Linked DNA regions of Homo sapiens: region 2 is linked to region 1. Evidence: fine-mapped expression QTL. A gene starts in region 1. The other region holds a variant in brackets. All regions are shown on one strand. Distances are from middle to middle. Region 1 holds the start of DENND10 (DENN domain containing 10). Region 2 overlaps LINC03036 (long intergenic non-protein coding RNA 3036).

The links. PIP is the estimated chance that this variant, and not a neighbour inherited with it, causes the effect. A credible set is the group of variants that fine-mapping cannot tell apart.
Region 2: its variant is the best candidate, but not a certain one, in a credible set for the expression of DENND10 in blood mononuclear cells (TOPMed, PIP 0.76).

The regions. Positions count from the first base shown.
Region 1 is chr10:119,101,587-119,105,973 of GRCh38, forward strand. DENND10 (DENN domain containing 10) reads left to right here and starts at 2,527. Exons shown (of 9, transcript NM_207009.4): 1 at 2,527-2,611. The coding sequence starts at 2,557. RefSeq lists a silencer at 2,316-3,095 and an enhancer at 4,237-4,387.
Region 2 is chr10:119,019,547-119,023,933 of GRCh38, forward strand. The region is part of intron 2 of LINC03036 (long intergenic non-protein coding RNA 3036); the gene reads right to left. Among named protein-coding and RNA genes, the nearest start is that of LINC03036, 7.8 kb to the right of the region's middle. RefSeq lists enhancers at 2,761-3,403, 3,404-4,046. The variant C/T (reference allele first, on the strand shown) is at 1,891.

The DNA of each region.
Region 1 (4,387 bases):
GGGTTGGAACTCAGGTTGTCTGTTTCCACACCCCAGCTCCATCTGTCTGTGACAGCGCAGAGGTCAGTCTTACTTTTAAAGATTGGGGATGCGTCGCCTCTGCTCTCTCCACCCTCTATTCCTTTTCCCTTCACTCTGGTGTACCTGTCTGGCAGGTAAGACAGCACTTGTGGAGAAACAGGAGGGAAGGAGGTGTCAATTCCAGGTATCATCCCACTCACTGGAGCCTGGACACACCCCTCATTATCTTTCCCCTCCCTGCACCCACTATCATCTCCCTCTCCTTTGTTTAATTATCTGTTCATCATCGTCTTCATCCTCATTTCTTTTCTTTTTTTTTCTGAGATGGAGTCTCACTCTGTCGCCCAGGCTGGAATGCAGTGGCGCGATCTTGGCTCACTGCAACCGTCCTCTCTTGGGTTCAAGCCAGTCTGCCTCAGCTTCCTGAGTAGCTGGGATTACAGGCACCTGCCACCATGCCTAGCTAATTTTTGTGATTTTTTGTTTGTTTGTTTTTGAGATGGAGTCTCGCTCTGTCGCCCAGGCTGGAGTGCAGTGGCGTGATCTCGGCTCACTGCAAGCTCCGCCTCCCGGGTTCACGCCATTCTCCTGCCTCAGCCTCACAAGTAGCTGGGACTACAGGCACCTGCCACCACGCCCGGCTAATTTTTTGTATTTTTAGTAGAGACAGGGTTTCACCGTTTTAGCCGGGTTGGTCTCAATCTCCTGACCTCGTGATCCACCCACCTCAGCCTCCCAAAGTGCTAGGATTACAGGCGTGAGCCACCGTGCCCCACCTAGTGCAAGTTTCTAGTTGGCTTCCAAACTGATTCCACATCTGTGTCCCACTCCTCAGCCTCTAAACACCTGCTTCTTTTCTGTGAAAACTAGACACATTAACAGTTATACTACAACAGGAAGCCCAGAGAATAGAAGGGCACGTAGTTCAGGGTGCTGCCTTCCAGGGGTTCAGTTTAGTGAGAGAAACAGGAATGCCATATACACACCTAAATATACTCCAATGTATAAATTGCAGCCTGGGCAACATAGCGAGAAACTGTCTCCAAAAAAAAAAGAAAGAAAAAAGAAAAAAACAGGCGCAGTGGCTCACGCCTGTAATCCCAGCTACGCAGGAGGCTGAGGCAGGAGAATCCCTTAAAACCGAGAGGCGGAGGTTGCAGTGAGCCGAGATCGCGCTATTGCACTCCAGGCCGGGCAACTGAACAAGACTCCATCTCAAAAAAAAAAAAAAAAAAAGAAAAAAGAAAAAAAGATGAGGGTGGGATTGTATTCCTGCAGACACCAAGGACCCTCCCTAATTAGCTCTGTGTGACTTGGGGTTGGGGCAGACAGTAGATCCAGAGGAGGAATCTTGGAGCCAAATCTTCCAATGTCTGAGTCGTTACTATCATTCAGATCTCAGTTCAAATATCCCTTTCTCAGAGAAGCCTTTCTTGACACCCATTTTAGAGCAGCACACCTCCACTCTCTAACACACTGCCTCCAGGGCACATATCGTTGCCTCCAGGGCACATATCATTCTGAGCTTTTTTACTATTATCTATCTATCTGTCATCTATTTATCTATTTATTTATTTTTGAGACAGGGTCTCACTCTGTCACCCAGGCTGGAGTGAGTGGCAGGATCACAGCTCACTGCAGCCTCAAAATCCTGGGCTCAAATGATTTTCCTGCCTCAGCCTGAGAGTAGCTGGGACTACAGGTGCATGCCACTATGCCTGGCTAATTTTTAAATTTTTTTTGTAGAGATGGGTCTCACTATGTTGCCAAGGCTGATCTCGAACTCCTGACCTCAAGTGATGCTCCTGCCTTGGCCTCCCATCGTGTTGGGATCAGAGGCGTGAGCCACCTCACCTGGCCTGGATTATTTATTCTACTCGCCAATTGTCTGTCTTCCCCAGTGGACTGCTCTGTCTTGTTCAGCCCTATAAGGTATCCCCAGTGCCTTATTAGGCCCTCAATTTTTGTTTTGTTTTGTTTTGGGGGTGGCTGGATGAAGGAATGGATGGAGACCCTTCCTCCATCCTCAGGACGCCTCTTTTTAGGAACAAGGTGACCTGTTCTTTTGAGCTTGACCAGAGGGCAGAGGTAGAACAAGGAAAGCCTACGACGGGAAGAAAGATTGGAGTGGATTGAGAAGAAGAAGGATGAACAGCTGGATTAGAGAAATTGAGGCAGGCTGCGGAGACTCAAGGAGGTTTCCAAGGGCGAAGGGCCACGGGCAGAAGACGAGTGGAGCTGCACTGAGCAGGTCCTGGCAGGGAGGACTGGGGCTGGAATAGGTGGGCCTGCGGGTGGGGCGGGGCCGACGGGGGGGGTTGATGGTCCTGTGATGGGGCGGGGCGGGAGGGAGGCGGGTCCTACAGCGGGAGGCGGGGCCTGTGATGGTCCGGGGAGGGAGGCGGGGCTTATGATGGGCCGGGGAGGGAGGCGGGGCCTGTGATGGGGGCGGGCCCTACGGCGGGCGGGGCGGGGTTCGGGTGCGAGGCCGGTCCTGCAGGCGGCAGCCAGAGCTGCGCGCCGCGGCGGCGGAAGATGGCTGCGGCCGAGGTGGCGGACACTCAGCTGATGCTTGGAGTCGGGCTGATCGGTGAGGACGTAGGCGCCCTGCCTGGAAGCCCGCACCCTGGTTCTGCCTCTGCTCCACCTCGGCCCGGGGCAGCCCGGGCTCCCGCGGCCCCCGGCGCCGACCGCATGAGGAGGGCGCGGCCCCCTCCCTGTTGGGCCTGGACTGGGGACTGCGGAGCCCGGCCTCCTTGGTGCAGGGGACCCGGCCCGCCGCCCTCGCCCGCCCGCCCGCGGCCGCCTGTGGGGCCTGCCCGGCCCGAGGGAGCCCGGGGACCTCCAAGATTCCGGGGTGGAGCTCCCCCTGCACGCCCCGGGTTGCCCGGCGGAGCCGGGACGTCGAGCGCTCCCAGGCTGGGCAGCTGCGAGGGGCGCTGCGCGGGCGGGGCCGGGCCGGGCGGGAGCAGCCGGCTGGCGGCGCGGCGCGGCGCGGCGGGGAGGAGGCAGGGTCCGGTTCCCCCGAGCCGGGGGCGGGCGGCTGCCTCGGAGCCACGGGTGACTGCCCGCCCGGGCGGCCCCCATCGTGGGACCGGGCAGCTGGAGACTGCTGGGCCGGGTGCTGCGCGTTGTACACACATTGTCTCCTTTTAGCTCTCACCAAGGACCGAGGGGCCGTGGGAAACGTCTGACGCCCACTTCACGGAGGAGCAAATGGAGGCCCAGGCCGTCATTGTGCACGGACACACCATAGGCCGTACAGAGCCGGGAGTGGGACCCTCGCAGTGTATCCCAGAGCCCCCAACCCCCACCAGTGGAGAGCTCCTGCATCATGTGATCGAGCTTGTGCATAAATAAAGCAGGAGTTTCTACACAATCCTGTGTGGTGGAATCTCGGTTAGCTCTGAGGAATGTAATTATCTTCCATAATTAAAAAATATCACACGGGGATCTTTGGGCAGCCTCGTGCAGTATTTAGGGGATGGAACCCGTTGGTTCCCTTCGAAAAAGTTTTATTTTCCCGAGATTTTTGCACACCCCTAAACTCTTTCTATTCCCCAAGTGCGCAATAACATTGCTTAGGCTTTAGCAAAACTGAAGAAATATGCTGATTATTTTTCAGTGCCTCAAAGCAGTGCGTTTATGTGGGAATCGCTTACTGTTTTTATTTCTTTGTCTTTCTTCTTTTTTTTTTTTTTAGACGGGGTCTCCCTCTTATCCAGGCTGGAGTGCAGTAGCGCAATCATCGCTCTCTGCAGCCTCCACCTCCCAGGCCCAAACCATCCTCCCGCCTCGGCCTCCGAGTAGCTGGGACCTCAGGCGTGCACCACCACCCGATTAATTTTTGTATTTTTTGTGGAGATGGGATACCGACATGTTGTCCAGGTGGATTACTGTATTTATTTCTAATGTGATTTTCAAACTGCTTCAAAACAAAACCTAAGTAACTTAGTTTCTCCAGAAGGTACTTTTGAACTAAGGCTAAGTTAAACTGTCTTTATCTACTAATAGCAAATAAAAAGATGACATATGATCATATTTTGAACTCAGCAGTTTTTTAATTATTCACACTAACGTGCATTTAAAAGGGGTTTGCAGCCAGCCTGGGCAATGTGGTAAAACCCTCGTGTCTCTACAAAAAATACAAAAATTAGCCGGGTGTGGTGTGCCTGTAGGTGGGAGGATTGCTTGGTCCCAGGAGGCAGAGGTTGCAGTGAACTGAGATCATGCCACTGTACTCCAGCATGGGTGACAGAGTGAGACCCCCCCCAACCCCGTCTCAAAAAAAGAAATTGAAAAAAGAGGCCAGGCGTGGTGGCTCATGCCTGTAATCCTAGCACTTTGGGAGGCTGAGGCAGGTGGA
Region 2 (4,387 bases), 82 kb before region 1:
TCCCAGCTACTTGGGAAGCTGAGGTGGGAGAATCACCTGAGCTGGGAAGGTTGAGATTGCAGTGAGTTGTGATCATGCCACTGCACTCCAGCCTGGGTGACAGAGCAAGACCCTGTCTAAAAAAAAAAAGAAAAGAAAGAAAGTTATACCCTCTATTTCCTTTCTCTTTTTTTCCAAATTGGTTCCCTAAAAATGTTAACTTACATGCTTAACCTCTCAAAATCTAAATTTAATTAATATTGATAGTCAAGATTTTCTCCAAAATAATCCATAGTATAGGAGATAGGGAAAAAAAAAAACAGGTGTGGAGATAGTTAAAAATAAGAGTAGCCAGTTATTAAGGGTAAACTGGGTTAAGATTCATTATGCTGGCCGGGTGTGGTGGCTCACGCCTGTAATCCCAGTACTTTGGGAGGCCAAGGTGGGCAGATCACAAGGTCAGGAGATCGAGACCATCCTGGCTAACACGGTGAAACCCCGTCTCTACTAAAAATACAAAAAATTAGCCGGGCGCGGTGGCAGGCGCCTGTAGTCCCAGCTACTCGGCAGGCTGAGGCAGGAGAATGGCGTGAACCCGGGAGGCGGAGCTTGCAGTGAGCCGAGATTGCGCCACTGCACTCCAGCCTGGGCGACAAAGCAAGACTCTGTCTCCAAAAAAAAAAAAAAAAAAAAAAGATGCATTATGCTATGATCTTTACTTCTGTAATTCTTGAAATTTCCCATAGGTTATAAAATATTAAAGTTAGTATCTTTCCCCTCTCCTTGAACAATATAAGGGTTTTGGAGCACTTCACTCCAGTCTCTCACTCCTGATGCTTGTTCTATTATTGCTGGGTATTTTTGTTGCACTTGGCTCTTTTTTTGTTTTAATGACAAATTAAATAACATCATTATTATTAGTTTGGTGCAAAAGTAATTGTGGTTTTTGCCATTAAAGAGTTAAAACCGCAATTACTTTTGCACCAACCTAATATTTTAAGTATGTTGAGTCTCCCACACAAGTATGCCTTTCTTTGCTCACTAATCCTCTTTGCAACTCAGACCCTTCCTCTGCAATCACTTTCCATCTGCCTGAGGGACACACACACACACACACACACACACTTTGTGTAGTGCTCCCTCACCTCACAGCTTCCCCTGTACTGTGTCAGGTCCCAACTGACAGAGGAAACCTGACCTCCCCAGCCCAGCTGCACTCTGGCTATGCCAAGGTCTTGGGAGTCATGACACACCCGTGTGTGGGTGGGGTGCTGTTGCCAGGGAGTTCACAGCCCTCTGCACTTTCCCCGTGGTAAGCTGAATAATGACCCCAAAAGGCATATTAATTCCTACAACCTGTGGATCTGTTACCTGACATGGCCAAGGAGAACTGAGGTTCCAGGTGGAATTAAGGTTGCTAATTAAATGATGTTAGAATAGGGGCCTGGCGCAGTGGCTCACACATGTAATCCCAGCACTTTGGGAGGCCGAGGCAGGTGGATCACTTGAGGCCAGGAGTTTGAGACCAGCCTGGCCAACATGGCAAAACCCTGTCTCTACTAAAAATACAAAAATTAGCTGGGCATGGTGGCACGCACCTGTAATTCCAGCTACTCGGAAGGCTGAGGCAAGAGAATCGCTTGAATATGGGAGGCAGAGGTTGCAGTGAGCCGACATTGCACCACTGCACTCCAGCCTGGGTGATGGAGCGAGACTCTGTCTCAAAAACAAACAAAAAAAGATGTTAGAATTGGGAGATCATTCTGCACATTCTGCATTATCCCAGTGAACCCAGTGGGACCACCAGGGTCCTGGAAGGTGGAGGAGGGAGACAGAAGAAAGAACAAAGAGGTGCCACGTGGAAAGGACTCAGCTACCTGCTATCCCTGGGTTTTGAGAAGGGAAAGGCCA[C/T]GAACCACAGGAATGGCAGGCAGCCTCCAGACGCTGGGAAAGGTAAGGAAACAGGTTCCCCGCCAAGAGCCTCCAGAGGGAATTCAGCCCAGTGAGACCCACTGTGGACTTCTGACATCTAGAGCGCTGAGAAAATCAGTGTGTTGTTTTCAGCCACTATATGGGTGGTAATTTGTTACAACCGCAACAGGAAGCGAACCTGCCCCCACCAAGTGTCATCGCCTGTTTACTTGTCTGTCTGCCCAATTCGAGTGTAAGCTCCATGAGGTCAGAAGTACGTCAGTCTTATTTGCCACTTATCCCCAGACCTTGATGGTAAATAAATGAATTTTAGAGATGGAAAGGGCCAAGAAATCACTTAGGCCAGCCCAATTATTTTAAACTGAAATTTAAAACTAAGATCCAGAGACAGGAACTGATTTTGCTCGAGGCTACTCAATTTATACAGAGCTTGGATCCTCCATCCGCTCCCTGGGGCCCACCTGCCTTCTGGTCACTAAGCCGTAGAAGCCTGAAGACAGACACAACTGTGGAGAGGCAGCTCCGAGCACACAAAATCCCTGGAGAACTCAGGACGGCTGGGAGAGGATCAGTGCAAATCAGATAAGACCAGAAGAAGATGGCTAAAATGACTTGAGCAATCTTTAAAATGTTAGTCCCGGCCCAGCGAGGTGGCTCACGCCTGTAATCCCAGCACTTTGGGAGGGTGAGGCGGGCGGACTGCTTGAGCCCAGGAGTTCTAGACCAACCTGAGCAACATGGCAAAACCCCATCTCTACTAAAAATATGAAAATTAGCCAGGCGTGGTGGTGCATGCCTGTAGTCCCAGCTACTCAGGAGGCTGAGACAGAAGAATCGCTTGAACCCAGGAGGCAGAGGTTGCAGTGAGCCAAGCTCGTGCCACTGCATTCCAGCCTGGGCGACAGAGCAAGACTGTCTCAAAAATAAAGTTAAATGTTAGTCCCAAGGGGCAGCTGATCCACCAGTAACAACCAGGGCAGAACTGTGCCCAGCACCTGATCAGCTGAATTCAGGAGACTCTCCACCTGAAGCTTCAGAATGGGGAAACAAGAAAAGGGGTACTAATGTCAAACTTGAGGCCCGCCTTCAAGAAGCTCAGCATTTCACACCTCGGCCAGAGCCAAAGCTTTGGGCTTTGAGCAAATTAGGAAAAGACACTTCTTCCACAAGGTATCTTTTTCCATCTGTCAGTGAAGTGTCATAATATACTGATTTCGTTAGAAGATACTTTACTCAAGGTCGGCCAGAAAATGATCACAGAGTTACTATGTCTATGAAGTAAAGGTGCCCCCTTAGATGGGAAGCGGTTGTGCAGTACACAACCTGCAGAACTGTACACAACCTGCAGAACCACACATAGCATTCTTTGCTTGGCAGTCTGGTCCCATCCTTTCCACAGCCCTCATATCCCCGCTTCCCCTCCCTCTGCCTAGAGCCCTCAGACCTGTTGGAGAACAGTCTCAATCTACAGGTTACCATTTTACATGTAACTCCTTCCTGTCAGCTTTTTACTTCCCTCCCCCTGCAGACAGCAGGGATTGACGACGGGTGAGAGAAGGCTGATGGCCCCATTTAGGGAAGCACAGGAGGAGGTGGGGAGGCCGGATGTAGTGAATTCCAAATGAATGAGTATCCACGGGCCAGGGGATGATCAAGGAGGTGTGAGGGTTAACAGTGCGGGCCTTGAAGAAATGCCACCTACCAGCTAGCTGTGAGCTGCTGGGCATGCTTTTAGCCTCCCAAAACCTCATTTTCCCTTTTGTGAAATGCTTATCATTGTAGGCCTGCTGGGAGGATTTCAGAAATGATATGAGTGAATGCTTAGTGCACGGTAAGGGCTCAGCACCTGTGAGCTACTGTTATTGCTATTATCAGCATCATCAGCCCAGGGACATCTGCCCTTCCGCCTGTCAGCCTCCAGGCAGCTCCTGCTTTAAACAAAATTGGGACACTCCAGATTTCTAAAAGAAAACCACATGGCAGGGAGGAGGGCAAGTGCTGGAGGGAGAAAGGATTACTCACTTTACCAAAGTACCCACTACTGGATAAACAGAAACACCCAGACTGCTTTTAAATGGGGTTGGTTTTGTTCAGGGGACATTGCTGACACGGACTGGAATGTGTCCTCTCCTGCCCCTGCCGCTGTGTGTTGCTGGCCAGTCTCCCGCACATCTGGACCCCAGAAGTCCCAAGAATGACCGGGTGCATCCAAGGAGGCACAAACCCAGGTTCGGGGAGTGAGAGAAAAATGGGTGCAAATCTCAGTCCTGCTGCTCCTGAGCTTCTCAGCCTTGGGCTCCATGCTGAGCTTTGCCCCCGTCTCCAACAGGTCACCAGCGCACCTGCCTTGCGGGGCAGGGTTGGGGGTGGGGGGCACATGGAATAGTGCATGTCAAGCACCTGGTGCTGATGGTGGTGGTATTATTACCAGCTGGGAGACTTTAGCCCAAGGCAGGGGGTGTGAGATGACACCACG